Homo sapiens: one gene and its partners. The protein of the gene in region 4 purifies or fractionates together with the protein of the main gene of each other region. This does not show direct contact. Each region holds a gene or a part of one and is shown on either strand. Other genes may lie near its edges. The genes, in order: MACROH2A2, HMGA2, SCRT1, MAP2K5 and LSM14A.

Evidence for each region.
Region 1: the proteins of MAP2K5 (region 4) and MACROH2A2 purify together in Homo sapiens (affinity purification with mass spectrometry; one large-scale study listed by BioGRID and IntAct). This does not show direct contact.
Region 2: the proteins of MAP2K5 (region 4) and HMGA2 purify together in Homo sapiens (affinity purification with mass spectrometry; one large-scale study listed by BioGRID and IntAct). This does not show direct contact.
Region 3: the proteins of MAP2K5 (region 4) and SCRT1 purify together in Homo sapiens (affinity purification with mass spectrometry, with the first as the bait; one large-scale study listed by BioGRID). This does not show direct contact.
Region 5: the proteins of MAP2K5 (region 4) and LSM14A purify together in Homo sapiens (affinity purification with mass spectrometry; one large-scale study listed by BioGRID and IntAct). This does not show direct contact.

Annotation. Positions count from the first base shown.
Region 1 is NC_000010.11:70,069,839-70,073,356, reverse strand, and holds part of MACROH2A2 (core histone macro-H2A.2), read right to left. Parts: intron 1-3,518. UniProt on the Homo sapiens protein: Variant histone H2A which replaces conventional H2A in a subset of nucleosomes where it represses transcription. Nucleosomes wrap and compact DNA into chromatin, limiting DNA accessibility to the cellular machineries which require DNA as a template.
Region 2 is NC_000012.12:65,830,972-65,834,489, reverse strand, and holds part of HMGA2 (high mobility group protein HMGI-C), read right to left. Parts: intron 1-3,518.
Region 3 is NC_000008.11:144,333,668-144,337,771, forward strand, and holds the start of SCRT1 (transcriptional repressor scratch 1), read right to left. Parts: upstream 2,816-4,104; 5' UTR 2,503-2,815; coding exon 2,388-2,502; intron 1,525-2,387; exon of another isoform or gene 1,320-1,524; intron 450-1,319; coding exon 1-449. UniProt on the Homo sapiens protein: Transcriptional repressor that binds E-box motif CAGGTG. Can modulate the action of basic helix-loop-helix (bHLH) transcription factors, critical for neuronal differentiation.
Region 4 is NC_000015.10:67,804,703-67,807,632, reverse strand, and holds the end of MAP2K5 (dual specificity mitogen-activated protein kinase kinase 5), read right to left. Parts: intron 988-2,930; coding exon 883-987; 3' UTR 519-882; downstream 1-518. UniProt on the Homo sapiens protein: Acts as a scaffold for the formation of a ternary MAP3K2/MAP3K3-MAP3K5-MAPK7 signaling complex.
Region 5 is NC_000019.10:34,175,492-34,179,009, forward strand, and holds part of LSM14A (protein LSM14 homolog A), read left to right. Parts: intron 1-3,518. UniProt on the Homo sapiens protein: Essential for formation of P-bodies, cytoplasmic structures that provide storage sites for translationally inactive mRNAs and protect them from degradation. Acts as a repressor of mRNA translation. May play a role in mitotic spindle assembly.

The DNA of each region.
Region 1 (3,518 bases), on a different chromosome or scaffold from region 4:
GCTGCTGTCTGTGGCTGCTCACTCTCATAAATCCACTTGTAGGGGTTTTCTCTTTGAGGAAGCAAGCAACTATGTGTTAGGTAAATGTATGGAGGGCCTGCTGTTAGTCAGCCCTGTCGCAGGAAAGAGGGGAAACAGACAGCATTGCTAAGTGGTCCCTGTCCTCACATAGCACGTGTTTGCTAGCTGGGTTGTGGTGCTCTAAATGGAGGTGGCTCTTGCTATAGTGGAAGGAGCCCAGGACTGCGGAACAGAAAGTCCTGGGCATAGCGCCGCTTCTACATAACTACAGTCATGCACCCCACAATGACCGCATATGACGGTGGTCCTGTATGATCATAATGGAGCTGAAAAATTCCTATGCCCTAGTGACATCTTTTTGTTGTTGTTGTTGTTGTTTGGGAAGGAGTCTTGCTCTGTCCCCTAGGCTGGAGTGCAGTGGTGCAATCTCGGCTCATTGCAACTTCTGCCTCTGGGGTTCAAACGATTCTCCTGCCTCAGCCTCCCAAGTAGCTGGGACTATCGGTGTGCACCACCATGCCTGGCTAATTTTTGTATTTTTAGTAGAGACGAGGTTTCACCATGTTGGCCAGGGTGGTCTCAAACTCCTGACCTCAAGTGATCCATCTTCCTCAGCCTCCCAAAGTGGTGGGATTACAGGTGTGAGCCACCACACCTGGCCAACCTAGTGACATCCTAACGGTGTAGCACAATGCCTTACTCATGTGTTTGTGGTGATGCTGATGTAAACAAACCTACTGTGCTGCCAGTCATATAAAAGTCTAGCACATATAATTATGTATAGTATATAATACTTGATAACAAATGACGATGTTACTGGTACTCCTTCTACTTATTAAAAACAAAGTAAACTGTAAACCAGCCTTAAATGGATCCTTCAGGAGGTATTCCAGAAGGAGGCATTATTATTACAGGAGATGACAGCTCCGTGCGTGTTATTGTCCCTAAAGACTTTCCAGTGGACAAGATGTGAAGGTGGAAGACAGTGTTATTGATGACCCTGACTCTGTGTAGGCCTAGGCTAATGTGTATGTGTCTTATTTTTTTTAACAGAAGTTTAAAAAGTTAAAAAAAATTTTAATAGAAAAATGCTTATAAACTTAAAGTATAATAATAATAAAATAAAAAAAGAAAAATGCTTATAGAGTAAGGCTATAAAGAAGGAAAATATGTGTAGTAGCTGTGCAATGTATTTGTGTTTTAAGCTAAGTGTTATTACAAAAGAGTCAAAAAGTTTAAAAAGGTTAAAAAGTTTATAAAGTAAAAAAAATTACAGTAAGCTAAGGTTAATTTATTATTGGATAATTTATTGGAAAATTTATTATTGGGTAAGGTTAATTTATTATTAAGGAAAATATTCTCTTTTAAATGTAGTGTAGCTAACATGTACGGTATAAAGTCTACAGTAGTGTACAATAATGTCCCGGGCCTTCACATTCACTCACCACTCACTCACTCACCCAGAGTACTTCTAGTCCTGCAAGCTCTATTCACGGCAAGTGCCCTATACATGTGTACTGCTGTTTACATTTTATACTGTATTTTACTGTCCTTTTCTAAGTTTAGAGACACAAAAACTTACCATCACCATTGCCTGCAGTATTCAGTATGGTAAGATGTTGAGCAGGTTTGTAGCCCAGAAGCAACAGATCATAGGATTATAGCCTAGGTGTACAGGAGGCTGTACCATCTAGGTTTGTGAAGTCCACTCTATGCTGTTTGCACAATGACAAAATCACCTAACGATGCATTTCTCAGAACGTACCCCTTTCGTTAAGTGATGCATGACTGTAGTTATGTGAGCTTCATATGTTATTTATTTGGACCTCAGTGGCCTTCTCTGTAAAACAGGGCAGGTGGCTAACATCCTTACAGTTGTTCTGCTCTTAAACATCCTGATTTTTCTGAAAGGCACTTTTCAATGATTTTGGTAGAGAAGCTTAGGCTCTTTAAGCAGTCGGTTCTAAAGACTTAAGAGCCTACACAGGCTCATAAAGGTGCATTAGTGACTCTCCTAAGCCAATTATGTGCTTTTCTCAGTTAATGGTAAGTGGGATTGGAGGATGATTACTAAGTCTGGTTGTCAAGAAACCACCTGAAAAGCCCATCACAGGGTGGACGTGCTCTGTGAATATGGTGTGTGCTGGCTGGTCTTAATCTCTCCCTACCATGCTTCCACCAGAGAATGCTGCATGAAGTACAAACACCACAAGGGCAGGGACACCCCCTGTGCACACGCGCACACACACACACACACTCATGCACATGCACACGCGCGCCCACACACGCATGCACGTGCACACGCATACATGCACGCGCTCACACACACACACACATGCACATGCACACAGACACACACACACACACACACACTTTCCTCAAAACAGCCAGAGAATGACTAGGTGTGCAGGATAAAGCCATTTAGGGACTTTCCTACTATTAGCTGCCAAGAGAAGTCACAAACTGCCCTAAAAATTGGAACTTAGGACTAGGAGTATAAGAAAAGCAAGTGACTTTAGGGGACGGATGCCTAAAACACTCAGGAAGAGGCCAAGCGTGGTGGCTTACGCCTGTAATCCCTACATTTTGGGAGGCTAAGGTGGGTGGATCACCTGAGGTCAGGAGTTTGAGCCTGGGCAACATGATGAAACCCCGACTCTACTAAAAATACAGAATATTAGCCGGGCGTGGTGGCGGGTGCCTGTAATTCCAGCTACTCTGGAGGCTGAGGCAAAAGAATCACTTGAACCCAGGAGGAGGAGGTTGCAGTGAACCGAGATTGTACCATTGCACTCCTGCTGGGCAACGACAGCGAAACTCCGTCTCAAAAACAAACAAACAAACAAAACTCAACACTCATGAAGATAAAATAGCCAAGTAAGGAAAATCAAAGTAGGAACAAGTAGAGAAACATACCACCTGCACATTGTAAAAAAGTACCTAAATGTAAGAATCATCCTGAACATGGTACTTTATAATAAGTTTTTCCCTCTGTGGCTTCCAGACTTCCCTCTAAGTGAGGGCCTTAGAGGAAATCCCCCTGGGTGGGGGATGCAGCTCCATCTGAAGTCTAAGTGTGAGATGGACTGACTTATGCATGTATTTTAAGCAGGACTGGAGAGTCCTCTATGCCTGCCAAACCCATCTTTTCAGGTCTTGTGCGGAATTTAAGCAGCCAGGCACCTATCTCCCAGGCCCTCCTGGGGACTCAGGGCTGTGAGGTCCCTGGACACGGACAGTAAGAATTAGAGCACATCCAGGAATCCCTAGGGGAAGCAAGGAGGGGCTTATGGAGCTGACATGTTACATCTACCAGAGCCCACCGACGGGAGGAAGTGCTGAGCCTCTGGGGCCACTCCAGAGAAGACCCTGCTTTCTAAAGACCACCTCTCCCCAAAGCCTGTGCTGGATTATGCCTGGAGTTATGATAAATTATAACCCTGAACTTCCTTCTTTCCCGGGCCACCCTTTCCTCCAACTCTATTCCGTCTTGGGAA
Region 2 (3,518 bases), on a different chromosome or scaffold from region 4:
GTGTTTATATGTGTGTCTTATTTCCCTCTTATCATCAGAATTCTAGAGTTCAGTAAAACTAGAGATAATTTCACCTAGCCCTCTCATTTAGCAAAGAAGAAAACTTCTGGATGTGTTACAATTCCCAAAGACATAGCCCCATGATATTATTTGGGAACCAGAAGTCTTGTGGGTATCAGTCGCAGAAGGCATACATTTCCAATCCCTTTATAACCTTTGGAGTGGCCCTTCAAAGGTTTCCCAAAGCGTAATTTCCAACCTGCATTTCAGGTTACTGGAGATAACAGAAATCTACCTTGTAACAAATATTTTACAGAACATTCAGCACATGGTAGTGGAAAGAGTATAAGCTTTAGAATTAAAGTGAATTCAAACCCAGGTGCTACCATTTACCAGAGTTGAATATCAGATATGTCCTGTTTACATCTTTGAATCACAGTTTTCTCATTTGTGGAATGAAGACCACAATGCCTAAATCAGAGGATTAAAGGAGCTAACATATATATAAAGTGCCTGACAAAAGCTATGGCATTTAGCACTTAGTCAAATGTAATTTCTTTTCCCTCCCCTTATTTTAAAATGCTACCCACAAATATAATACTTACCAATTTTCTTAGTTTCCAAAGTGACTTTCCAAGCATTATCTTACTTCAGTAGGGCAGGGCAGGTGTTACTTCCCGTTTTACAAATGGGAGATTAAGCAACCTGCCCATGTTCACAGGTAGTAGAACTGAGACCCAATCTGATTTCAATGCAGTGAAGTGTCTGTTCTTTGGAGAGCTATTCCCATATAAAATAAAACTGCCATTCAAAAATTTAAAAAATAAAAGATAACCTTCTAGGGTGAAAATCAAATTAGTTAAAAGTAATGTATTTCCAAGTTTCCTATAAACACATGGACAAGAGCAGAGGTTGGAAACTAAGAATAATTCAATTCTGACTTCAGGGTCAGGTTTAGGTGGCTATTAATTTTTTGCTATTACAAGTTCTCTCATCATTTTTTTTATGTACTGTGATATAGCCAGAAATCCCCCACTGCAAATCCATCAGTGCATCTGTACCAAAAAAAAAAAAAACTAGAAAAATATTTGGGTGTGATGGTGCCCTGTCTTGTTTGCATGTATCTTGATTTGCATGAAGCCCACTATCCAAAGCCTAGAAAGCACATTTTATTTCCTTCAGTTGCTATTTTTAAAAATATAAACAGTATAAATCAATGTACACTGATATCAAAATCAACTCTACGAATCAATCCCACTAAGTACTGAGGAAATTCTCATTTTACCTTTTTGATAATCCAGTTCTGTAAGTTTCCTAATTTTACATGCAACACTTTTAGCCTTGAAGAGACATTACAATTTGCTATCACAATATATTTTCCAATAGAAAATATAAGTAATTTCCATCACCCATTGTAGTTCCTGCCTATTACCCAAGTTAGCCTTTACTGTCAACTCTGGTGTCCTTATTTTGCACATGCTTATCTTCATGTATACAAACACTAAATTAAAACCAAAGCCAAATGACAGGCAAAGTTATCATTTTCAAAGTTTAAGATTCTTCTCCTCCAAATCTTCTCTCTACTTCTTTGTAATCATAAAAATCAATAGCAATGATACAAGAGATCATTGCTATTGATCACAGGAGTTACCTTCTGAGCAAACATGATCCTAGACAAAAGAGAATGCCTGCACTACTCTTCCCTAATTTAAATAGAATATGCCATTCAAAATTGCTCAGTGTATTAAAACAATATGAAATAATGCAATGCCCTAACAAATAACAGTTCTCTATTTCCCCTTTTCTCTTGGTTGGCAGAACAAAGATTCATAACTAAAACCTTCAGAATCAGTGAAATTAATTCAGTTTCCACTTTGTGCCTTCTGCTCTGTAAACTGCAGAAAGTCAACTAACAAGACAAGACATGTTTGAATGATTTAACTGACATAAAATCCTCTTCAGCACCCATCTATTCTCAAGAAAGAACTGAAATGCAATAGAATACCAATCTGGTATATTCTATCTCCTTAGCAAAATGATCTGTTGAGAACTTGAGATAAAAATGAGCCAGGAATGTAGGTCAGCCAGAGAAATGAGGAGACTTCAAGTTCAGAAGAGTTCAGAAGGATGAGAGCTTCCAGAGAAGTAGAACTATAGGTCCCTTGAAATAAAATTACTTCATAAGATAATTCAAATGTATTTCAATCTCCCATATTTGGATCATAATCTGTGATGATTAAAAGCATTACCAGATAGAATGTGCTGGTGCATTAAGTAAGGCTTTGTCTTCCCTGGCAAAGTGAAAGAAAAAAATTAGTCAATTGTTTAGGTAAGTCAGCCTAAATATCAAGATAATGGAACAACAGTTGGACTTTACTTAATTTCACCTGCTGAATTCATTTGTATCCTCAGATAGGGCCCTGAATCCGCCTGAATTCATTTGTATCCTCAGATAGGGCCCTGAATCCCACAATAAAACTTACCTGCCCATTGAAACACAGAGGAATTAAACTAAATCATAGTAGTTTAATTTAGAAACCATAGGCCAGAATTATATGATAACTTCCAAAGTTACCTTTCCTTAACTCACCAATAATAATGTCTTTGGTTTCTCCTTTTAATTAGGCCTACTATATTCTGAAGAAAATTCTGTCCTCACTCAGCATTTATGCTGAATGATTTTTCTGAAATGGTGACTAAAACTATCTTCTCTCTTTTTAAAATATCTGTGATTGGTGTGGGTAATGATTATGAAAAGCAAACCACATTTCGAGAAATGCAAATGATTAGAAGGAGCATGAAGTAGTCTTTACAGTATCTAATTAATTCAGGCCTTCTTTTTATAGCAAATCAAACATAGAGATTAAACATTTACTCTGAACACATTATTTTAACTATAACTACTTTATCTAGATATTTTCATTCTGCACTTTGCTTCCTAGATCTGTCCATTACACCTAAAGTCAAAAGGGTGGTGAACAAATATATGACATGATGAAGTAGGGTTATCTCACACCTGAGATCTTTTTTTTTTATTTTCATTTTCCTTCCAATAAAATTTAATTCAACCTCAGAAAAAAACTTCCTAAAATATGTGAATGAGAATTGGCTTAAAACTTAAAGGTGAATTTGACCTGAGACCTTCAACACTGAAGAATTAGTGACAACCCCTCCAGTATTCTGTCATGATTAAAAAAGTACAACAAAACCCTAAACTAAAGGAGATTATAACTTCTTTCTCTCTAACCATCTGGGAACTGTAAAAATGCAAAGATTTCCATCCACCACAACCAGGAAAGCAAAGCAAAGCAAAACAAAACAAAAAAGGAAGTTAAGACATAACTGGTCATAGGTGTACCTCAGACTAAAAAATAAATAAAAGGGTAAAGATATGCTCACACAGACGTATACACACATGGACAAATGAATTATTCAGGAAAACTTTAACTTCTGATTTCTTTTATTCAGGTAACTATATGAAACTGATTCAGGGACAAATTTTGAGCACTCAGATTGGA
Region 3 (4,104 bases), on a different chromosome or scaffold from region 4:
GCCAGCACCTGCGGCCCCTGGCCCCGCGCGCGCCTCGGTGCCTGCCCCCGCGCGCGTGCCGCCCCGGCCCCCCGGCCCGGATCCCAAGCTGCGCCCGCCCGCCCCGCCCCCGCCTCCGGCGTCGCCGTCGGGGGCCGCCGCCGAGGCTGTGGAGGGAGCGGCGGCAGCGCCGGCATTGGAAGCCTTACGCCGCGAGCGCCCGTCGGTGATGAAGAAGGCGTCCGCCGCGTAGCCCTCGCTGACGGCCGCGTCGCCGTTGATGTAGCCGCCCGCAGCGGTGGCCAGCTCCGGGCGCGGGGTGGGCGGCGGCGCAGACCCTGCAGCCGCCGGACCCAGCTCTCCACGCACAGCTGCTGCGTACATGGGCTCCGGCGACGGCCCTTTGAGCAGCGCAGCCTCGGCGTCGCCATCGTAGACGGACGAGGGCCCCACGTAGTCGCTGAGGTACCCTGCGGGCGGAGGCGGACGGACAGCGGGAAGGGAATGGGGCGGCGGCAGGACACACACGGGGGATGGGGGGGCGGGAGACAGCAGACGCGGACCGGGAGACCCGGGTCCGGGAGAGAGGCGAACAGGGAGGAGGACAAAGGAGAGGAGGCCGAGGGACCGCCGGGCAGGGAGGATGGAGACAGCAGGGAGGGGAAGAGAGGGGAGGAGAGGATGAGACAGGGCCGGGCCACGCTCCGCCCCCGCCGCCCCACCCTCGCAGAGAGGAGGAGAGAGGCGCGTCTTCGGGCGCGGCTGCCCCCCTTCCGCGGAGCCTCAAGGTCAGGGGGGAGGGGCGGCGCTTCCCTCTCCCTCCTCCCCCACCCACCCTCCCCTCCCCCTCGGGTTCTCCCCACTTCAGCAGTTTTCCCTGATTATGCAACACACTGCAGACCCGCGGCGCACAAAGCCAGGACTGCCGGCCCAGGGACCCCGTCTGTCCCACCTCTCCGGGGTCCTGGCCGGCTCTCCCTCTGGCCTGCAGAACGTGCGCTCCATTTTGATGTTGACCCCCTCTGGCCTTCTGGTTCCTCCAACAAGCCCTGAAGACGTCTCCCTCCCCCAGTTCCCTCCGGCCTCACCAGCACCTCCCTCAGCTCTCCGGCCACCCACTGGACTTGACCCTGCCCTCCCTGCTCCTCCATGCACTCTGCTTCTCCTCCGAACTCCCTCTCACCATCCTGCACCCTTGGGTCCTACCCTGTTCAACATTGCCCTCTCCTGCTCACACCCTAACCCCTTTCAGGGCCTTCCCAAGCCCCTGAACTGTGCAGAGAGGGCCAGGGCGTCCACTTTCACAGGGACGAGCTGCAGGAGGGCAGCATCACTTATACCGGTAGCTGCAGTTGCTCCCCAGGCACAAGATGGATCTCATAACCTCAAAGTCACAAATGCACGCCCCTCGCGACGCTCTGCCTCCTTCAGGGCTACACCCAGTCTCCCAGCATGATCAGCCCTTGTGTGCCCTCACAGGGTGGGCTGCACACTGATGTGCCGAACTCACCACCTCCTCACTCACGCAGGGTCACACATGCAGTCACCCCGGACACACTCTCAAGTCACATGGTGCACAGCGGCCTCAGAGTCACATGGTCCCATGTAGTGGCACACAGGCAAGCACACACACACACAGGGTCACACACAAGCGCACACGGTCACATGGCCACACACAGTCACATGGACCCACACAGGCTCACACTCCTGCAGGTCACACTTGCTCTGCCACCCCATGCTGCTGGCACTCCTGTCCCCCTCTCCTGCATGCTGACAGTTGTCCTTGAACTTGGGCACCCTTACACAAAGAGCCTCCCCCTGCCTCCCACACCTTGGGCGTCCCTTGCTCACAGCCTCCTCCCTGCTTCCTCTCCCTGACCCAGGCTTCAGGGAAGAGACTGCTGCTGCCTCTGCTGGCCCTCTGCTCTGACAGGTGGGCGGCCCTGTTGGACCCCCTGCCTACTCCCTGGAGCTCCCTGCATTCCCCAGCTAACCCTAGCAGGTGTCCTGGTGCAGTCAAGGAAGAGGAGAGGGTGGCGAGGCGGCCCTGGTCTCTTGAGTGTAGGTCTGTGTGTGCCGGCATGGCTGGGTCCCGTCATGGCAGCGCCCATGCGGCTGTGTCTGTCCCAGCATGGGTCAGGATGTGGGTCCATGTGTGCGTTTGGGTACCTCAGTTCCTGATCCTCTTCCCCACCCTCTGTCCAACGTCGACACTCTCCCTGCCCAGCCTTGGCCTCTGTGTTCCCCTTCCTCCCCTCTACCGTCCAGGCTCCAGCCACAGACTCTTGCCGTTTCTGGTTCCCTTCAGTCTGTTTCCCCGGGCCCTGCCCTCCGCCCCCACACTCTGGCCCTCCACCGCTTCCAGCAAAGCCCCAGGCCCCGCGCCCTGGTCTCAGACCAGCGCTCACCTTTATCGTGCAGTGGCGCGCCGAGGTCGCTGCGGGCGCGTCCGTAGGCGCTCTCCAGGTCGGCCGAAGAGAACGCGTCAAGTTTGACCTTCTTGACCAGGAAGGACCTGGGCATGATTCCTGCGGGGCTCCGGCGCTGTGGGCCTGCGGAGCCGGGGCTTGGGGGGGCTGCGGCGGCAGGGCCCCGTCACCATCCGAGGAGCGGCGGAGGCAGCGCGGGTCCCCACTCTGGCCTTTGGATGCTGCCGCGCGAGTGGTGTCCTCTCTCCTTGCTGCCCTGCGTCTCCTCCGTTGCCCCTCCGGATCCCTCTTCTTCCTCCTTCCTTCAATCCTTCCTTCCTTCCTTCAATCCTTCCTTCCTTCTCTCCTCTTCTCTCCTCTCCTCTTCCTTCCTTCCCTCCTCTGGTCCCGGCTTCCCAGCCCGCAGTGCCGCCCCTGGACAGGCGGGGGAGGAGGCTGGGGGGGCGGAGAGGGGGGGAGCGGCTCCGTCCCGGGCCTGGAGGCTGCGAGTGGGTGCAGGGCTGGCCCGGCTCGGTGGCCCCCTTCCCCTCCCCCCCCCCGCCGCCGCGGCGGAGCCTCAGTCAGCGGCCCCCCATGCCCCCGGGGGCGGCGGCGCCGGGCCCGGAGAACGCGGTGGCAGCGGCAGCGCCGGCAGCTTCAGCACCGCGGCCAGCGCCGGCCTGGGCAGCACCGCGGCCAGCGCCCGGGCGCGCTCAACCGGCGCGGGCGGAGAGGGGCGGTCCGCGGGGGTTTGGCCGCCGGGCAGGGGTCCTCGGCGGGGGTCTCTGGGAGGCTTGCTTTATTGTTCTGCAGCCGGAGCGAGCGGCAGTGGCGACGGCGGCGGCGGCGGCGGCGGCGGCGGCGGGCGGGGGGCGGGGGTCCTGGGGGGAGGGGTGCGCAGGGAGGGCGGGCCGAGGGAGGGAGGGAGGGAGGGACAGGGGCTCCGGGGGCGGGGCTCGGCGCTCGGACTGCTCCTGGGCCCGGCCTCCAGAGCCCGCAGCCGCCTCTGCCTGCGGCCCGGCCCAGCCTCTGGCTTTTAAAGCCCAGGAGCTGGGGGAGGGGGAGGGAGGTGGGGGAGAGGCCGGCGGAAATGGCTGCGCTGGGCCGAGCCCCGGCCTGGGTCTCCTGGGAGGGGTCCCGGGGATGCCTCAGCCTGCGCGAGTGGGGAATTCCCCCGCGCGGCTCGGGGAACCGCGGCCCGGCAGCCAGCAGCATTGTCGGGCGTGTGGGGAGAAATGGAGCCAGGCCTGGGACCCAAGCGCCCCGGACTCGGGGTCTTGTGGGGAGGAACGTAGGGAGGACCCCAGTCCCGCCTGCCTCGCTCGGGGCCTGGGGCGCGGGATCTGCGGGGGCGGGCGGGGGAGGCGGGAGCCGAAGGAGCAAGTGCTGAGGCAGCGAAAGCGCAGCGCGCGCCCTGTGCCGCAGTGGCTCCCGCCGCTCGGTCACCCCGGCTGACCCCGTGCACGCTGGAGGGGCCTACCCGCCCCCGCCTCTCTCCCCCCGGGCGGGTGTGCGGCGCAGCGGCGTCGCTGCGAGCCGGGTGTGGAGCTGGAGAGGGGCTGCCACGACCCTGCTCCAGAAATTCTGCTGCTTTGGGGGTTTTCCGCCCTTCCGCGCGGCTGCAGCTCCCCACGGCAGCCCCGCAACCAGGCGGATAACCCTTTCCTCGGCCGCCCGCCCAGCGTTTGCAGCCCCCATGACGTCAGGCTCAGCGGCC
Region 4 (2,930 bases):
TTGAGATGCTATTCAGACCTTCAAGTGGAATCCTGAGCCCCTTGGAGCCTCAGCTCCTCACCTGCAAAATGGGGGTAGCCAGGCTTACCTGGCATGTGGCTGAGGGGATTTCCTGAGAGGTGAGAGGTGGCAGGTGTGGGGTCAAGGGCAGTGAGGAGCAGGGGTGGGGCTGGGGTGGAGAAGGGCCTCTCAGAACAGCCCACTCCCTCCTCAGCCACGCAGGTCAGGTGGATGTGTCTGGCAGTCCAGTAAGGAGCTCATGGCGGGGGCCTGAGATCCGGGCCTACTCCTTGCCATGGGACCCATCCCAATGCCTCCGTGCTTCTGTTTCTCATCTGACAGTGGAGCTGGGCTGTGGGCCTCAGCACAACTGCGAGGAGCTAGCAGGAGGCTTGCAGGTGCCTGGGCAGGCAGCAGGCACTGTCACACACATCCCTGCTGAAGTGGAGATCCCACCTGCCCCCAGCCCTGGGGGGGGTCACAGACCCCCTGGACCACACAACTCTTATGGCAGAGGCTGTCACAAAGCATTAATACTTTTATTCCCATCAGTGATGCTGACGGGCCTGACCCTTTATAGAGAAAAACATTAGGAAAACAGAAGTGGGCAGGGACCCTGGGAGCCTCCATTCTCAATGCCCCACCCTTTACCTCTCTGCCAGTGTCAGCGCCTTCAAACCAGAAGGTATGGGGATGGCCTGGTGGGGTGGGCCACACATGGGGCTCCCCAGGCAAGGCCACCTGCTGACAGAGGTGAAGGCGAGGGCAGGGAAGCCAGGGCCCAGCAAAGCTCTTCTGGCGCAGGCAGCATACGGAGAAGGGCGACGGGTGGGTTGTTCTCCTTGGTTACTGGTCCTGGGCTTTCAGTGCCCTGCGGCAGCCTCACGGGGGCCCCTGCTGGCTCCGCCTCTCCTCCAGCGCCCGGCACACCCACATGGACACCACGGCGGCATTTCCATCATTGAACTGCACGATGAACGGGTGGCCCTGCGGGGAAGAGGAGGAGGCTGTGACAGGCAGTCCTCGGACTCCCGCGCTCATTGTACTTTCCAGGGCCTGCCCTCAGCCTGGATCTGATCTCTTTCCCCAGTAACCCTGTGAGGTAACGAGGGAGGCTATCAGCTCCATTTCACGGCCTAGATAATTGAGGCCCAGGGACGAGCAGTGACATACTGGTAGTCAGCACCAAGCGTGTGGAGTGCTGGCTGGCACATCTCAGACTCTGCCACCTCTTCCTGAGGCTCGCACTAGCCTGGAAGGTGCTTAAGGGCGAGGGCCTGTCTTCGCTGCACACTCTGCCTGGCCCTTCCTCTGCCCGGCATCACTCGCACGGCCAGTCAGCCGAGGCCTGGCACTGTGTTGCCAGCTTTCCGGTTCAGTTGGTGCCCAGAGACCAAAGAATCATCTCGTCAGAGGCTATGTCAATCCCTTTTAGCTTTCTCCTTTGTCTACAGCTCTCCTATAAAAAGAAGTCACCACCTGCAATTGGAGGGAAGGCAAACATGTCAGGGGAAGTGGGGAGGGGGAGGAATGTGCTGGGCTGTGCACAGGATCTCTGGGTTCCTGGTGAGAAGTTCCATTGGGGGCTGGACTCTGGAGGGGCCGGCCCTGTTGCCCTGTGGCCTGCCTCTGGTTCTAACCCACTTATCACACAGGCAGACCAGATTCTATTTAGCCAGTTCTCTTCTCTGCTGTCCTGAAGCACCAAGATTTACATCCACAATCTTAGGGCCTCCTGGGAATTCCCAGGGAAGGTCAGAAAAAAGCAGGGACAACCCCAGGGTTACCAGGCCACAGTCAGAGGTGAAAGGAAAAGTGAAAAGCCTTCTTTTTCTTCCTCTTCACCAAGTGGCTTCTTGCCCAGGAACTTACACCAAGTGGCTTCCTCTCCTACCCAAAACTGTGCAGCTTGCATGGTGAGACTCGGGGAGCCATAGCGAGGACAGAGAATGGGGGAGATGAGGGCGCCATGTGCCTGCCCCCAGCTCTTCTCCCTCCCTGTCCAGCGGCCGCTTCCTCGCTCCCCCCAGCTCTCTCCTCCCTCCAGCTTCCTCAGCCCCTCTTGGGCCTGTCCTCCACCTGCACAGGCTGGGCTTTCAGGGTTGCTTTCCCAGCACACCCCAGCCTTGACTGCAGCCCTAGAGAGGCTGCTTAAAGAGCCGCATGGCCTCGCCACGAGCTCATCACAAAGCCAGGAGGGATGTGGACCCTGGCTGTCCCAACCTCAGCGCCTGCAGGGGCTGTCAAGGACCAGGCCTGGGTAGAGCAGGGGACGGCATGGCCCCTCTGGACCACAGGTCAGAACTGTGGGGGACAGGAGAATGCTCAGGCCGCCTCATCCTAGGCTGATGCAGTGCCCGCCCCCAACCTTCTCATTCGAGGTTGGGAAACCTGCCCTGGGGACACCCTGCGTGGGTCTATCTCAGAGGCACACAGAGCACTGTCAGAGCTGCGAGGAGGAGGAGGAAACTCGGCTTCGAAGATGCCAAGGCACTCAACCCCGGGCAGGGACCCGCTGAGACTGGGGTGGAGCTAGGCCTGGAGCCCAGCTGGGTACTTCCCATAATCTGCTCATAGCACTCTGGGAGGCTCCTGACACACCTGCAGGACCCCTAAGGGCACAGGGGCCATGGAGGCCAGGCTGGGTGTGGCCCTGTGGATGGCAGAGGTTTGGTCTGGGGCCTGAGCAGGAGAGGCCCAGGAAGGACTGGATTTTGGCTTCCAAGTGTTCTCCTCCCCATATATATGCCCACCCCACGGCTGCTTTCCCAAATCGCTGCCTAGACAGAGGAAATCCTTCCCAAAGTCCAAGCGTGCACACTTCCTCTCAGGAGGCTCAGGAGGGGCGACCTCGTGCCCTTCTAAAGAACAAAGGGAGAAGCTGTGCTCACGAGTGACGGGCCCCTCCCCCCACGCCCGGGGTAACACAG
Region 5 (3,518 bases), on a different chromosome or scaffold from region 4:
AGAATGCCGGGATTACAGGCATGAGCCACCGCACCCGGCTGCTTTTTCTTAAGCAACATGAGTTAAATGTGTAACCAGTTTGGGGAATTTGATTATGTTCGCAAAAACTGACATTATCAAACCTTTATATATTAGTCTACATGATATTATCTAATCGAAAACTACATTATAACTGTCTAGTCAATACTGGACACATTTCAGATTTCAAGATTAGAAGCAAGGAGTTCAATCTTAAAATTTTAAAATTTACATGACTTGTTGAGTAATTCGATATCAGAAAATTTCACCTTCCATTTCAAAATTTGAACGAAGAATGGTAGTCTAAAAGATTAAAGCCAAAAGTGTTTGTTTTGTTTTGTTTTCGTTTTTTTTTGTTGTTGTTTTGAGACAGAGTCTTGCTCTTGCCCAGGCTGGAGTGCAGTGGTGCGATCTTGGCTCGCTGCAGCCTCCACCTCCCGGGTTCAAGCAGTTCTGCCACAGCCTTCCGAGTAGCTGGGACTACAGGCGCCCAACACAGCTGGCTAATTTTTGTATTTTGAGTAGAGACGGGGTTTCACCATGTTGGCCAGGCTGGTCTCAAACTCCTGACCTCAGATGATCCACCCACCTTGGCCTCCCAAAGTGCTGGGATTACAGGTGTGAGGCACTGCACCCGGCCTGAAGCCAAAAGTTTATTCATGGAATTTATAATACAGTGTGTATTTGGATGTAGAGATCCCTGTTACTGTTTTTAAACTATGGATTAAGAGTTAATCTCTTTGAGTAACAGTCTTAGCATTCTCTTTTGAACTTTTTTTTTTTTAATTTCTCAGGGAGAGTGTTATTGGGAAACCTAACTACACAGGCTGAAAAGATACATAAGATAAAAATGAAATATTTTTAAACAAACATCTTTGTAACCACCACCCAGGGCAAGACAGACATTGCCAGCATCCCAGAAGCCTCCCACCACCTATATTTTCCCATCACAACTATCACCATCTTAATTTAAGCTAGATATAAATGTTCTTCTGACATTTATAGTTTTACCATATAAGTTTACATCTCTAAATAATAGAGTTTAATTTTGCCCATTTTTAACTTTATGTAAATAGGATTGTGTTGTATATATTTTATTTTTAGCTTTTATTGTTTCATAATATTCCATCATGAATATAACACAAGTTTATTCCTTCTGCCATTGTTTTGGATATTGCATTTAGATTGTTTGCAGTTTGGGGCTATTATAAACAATGCTTTTATGAACATTTCTGTTTAAGTGCACTGGTGCATGTTTATTTCGTTTTCTTGAGATTATATACTTAGAATTTGAATTGCAAGAACATGGGGAATGTTGGTCTTTATCAGGTAATGCCAGGTAGTTTTTCAAAGTAGTTGTTTAGTGGTTTTTACTTCATTTATTAGTATGTAAGAGTTCTTGTTTCATATCCCTTACCAACAACCGTACGTGGTATCATATATTTCAATTCTAGCCAATCCTGGTGGGTATGTAGTTGTATTTAGTTTTAATCATTTCCCTCATTACTAAATGGGGCTGACCAGCTTTTCATATCTGGGTGTTTGGATTTCATTTTTCATAAAATGCCTTTGAAATCTTTTCCTTTTTTAAATCGAAACACGTCTTTTTCTAGAGTTCTGTATTCTGAATATATCTCCATTGTTGGATGTATATATTGCAAACATTTTTTCCATTTAGTAGTTTCTTTAAATTAACAGAAGTTCTTCATTTTAATGTAAACATGTTCATCAGTTTTTTATGGCTAGTGTTTCTTTTTTTAAAACATCATAGAGATACTTTGATTATCTTTAAACCTTTTTGTGCTTTGCTTTTTCACATTGACGTTTATAATGCATCTGAAATTGATTTTGTGTACAATGTGAGATATTCAGAGCTTTATATTTAGTAAGGGATTCACTTGGTTTATATTGTCCATATTATAATTTAGGGCTTGGATATTATAATTTAAATATATCTGGAACTATAAACTACTCTTGAAATTTTTGGCTATTTACATTTGATGTGGTATATAATTAGGGTAACCATATGGCCTAGTTTGCCCTGGTGGAAAGTCCTTGTTTGTGCCTGCTCTGGCATAATTATTAAAAACATCCCGGCTGGGCAGGGTGACTCAGGCCTGTAATCCCAACATTTCCAAAAGGTCAAGGCCGGGGTATTGCTTGAGCCCAGGAGTTCAAAACCAGCCTCGGCAATACAGGGAGACTCCATTTCTACAAAAAATTTTAAAAAGTGCATTAGCCAAGCATGGTGGCATGCATGTCTGTCGTCCCAGCCACTTGGGAGGCTGAGGCAGGGGGATTGCTTGAGCCCAAGAGGAGCTGTGATCATGCCACTGCACTCCAGCCTGAAACATAGAACAAGACCTTGTCTTAAAAAATAACAATGATAGCCTGTAATCCCAGCACTTCAGGAAGCTGAGGCAGGCGAATCACCTGAAGTCAGAAGCTCGAGACCAGTCTGGCCAACATGGCGAAACCCCGTCTCTACTAAAAATACAAAAATTATCTGGGCGTGCTGGTGCATGTCTGTAATCCCAGCTACTTGAGAGGCTGAGGCAGGAGAATTGCTTGAACCTGAAAGGCGGAGGTTAGAGTGAGCCAAGATCACACCACTGTACTCTAGCCTGGGCAACAGAGCGAGACTCTGTCTCAAAAAAAAAAAAAACACAAAATAATAATAATAATCTGTTTTCTCTTTTGAAAATGTTTCAGTGTGGATAAGTTATCACACCACATAATCAAAAGCCTAATTGCAGAGGTGCTGTGAAATGGTCGATGTGCCTTATTTTCTGCTAGAGATGTCACAGACTAGCTTTAGTTCTAGAAAGTGAAACAGGTAAGTTTGAGGGGCTTTGATCCTCGGAACCTAAGCATATGTCAAGAAGTCATAAAGGCAACCTAGAAAGGCTTTGATGTCAATCTGCTATGTATGTTTATAGATGATCTGTGTTGCAGTTTGTTTCTGCAGTTTGTTGCAGTTTGTAGTCTGTGTCACAGCTCTGAATTTATTTTCTTCTCAGCACTGATCATGACTTACACTTAATCTTCTTTGCTTATTTGCATATGTGTTTATTGTCTGTCTTCACCTTCCCCTTCACCTCCAGACTCTGAGCTCCTGGTATGAAAGGTTGTTTAGTTAGTGAGTAAATGGAAATGATTTAGCATTTTAGCTTATTGTTCTTGTAGAAGTATCTTGGGTATACCTCCAAATAATGCTTTTCCATGTTCACAATTGCATTTCCCTATAAAATTAAATTATCCTGCCTCACATTAAGAAATCTTGAAGAATTTCAGTGAGTAGGGATGCAAGAGGATGAAATCTAGTGACATAATTAACATTATTGGGGAGGTAAACTCTTTGTGACTCAAGCTCAATTATAATTTTCATTTAAAGTTTAAAGGAAGCCTCCATTCAGGGTGTAGGAAGAAATTACACAGTGGTGACATGTATGAATATTTTATGGAATAGTTCCAGTTGTGTTTGCACCTACGTCTATAAG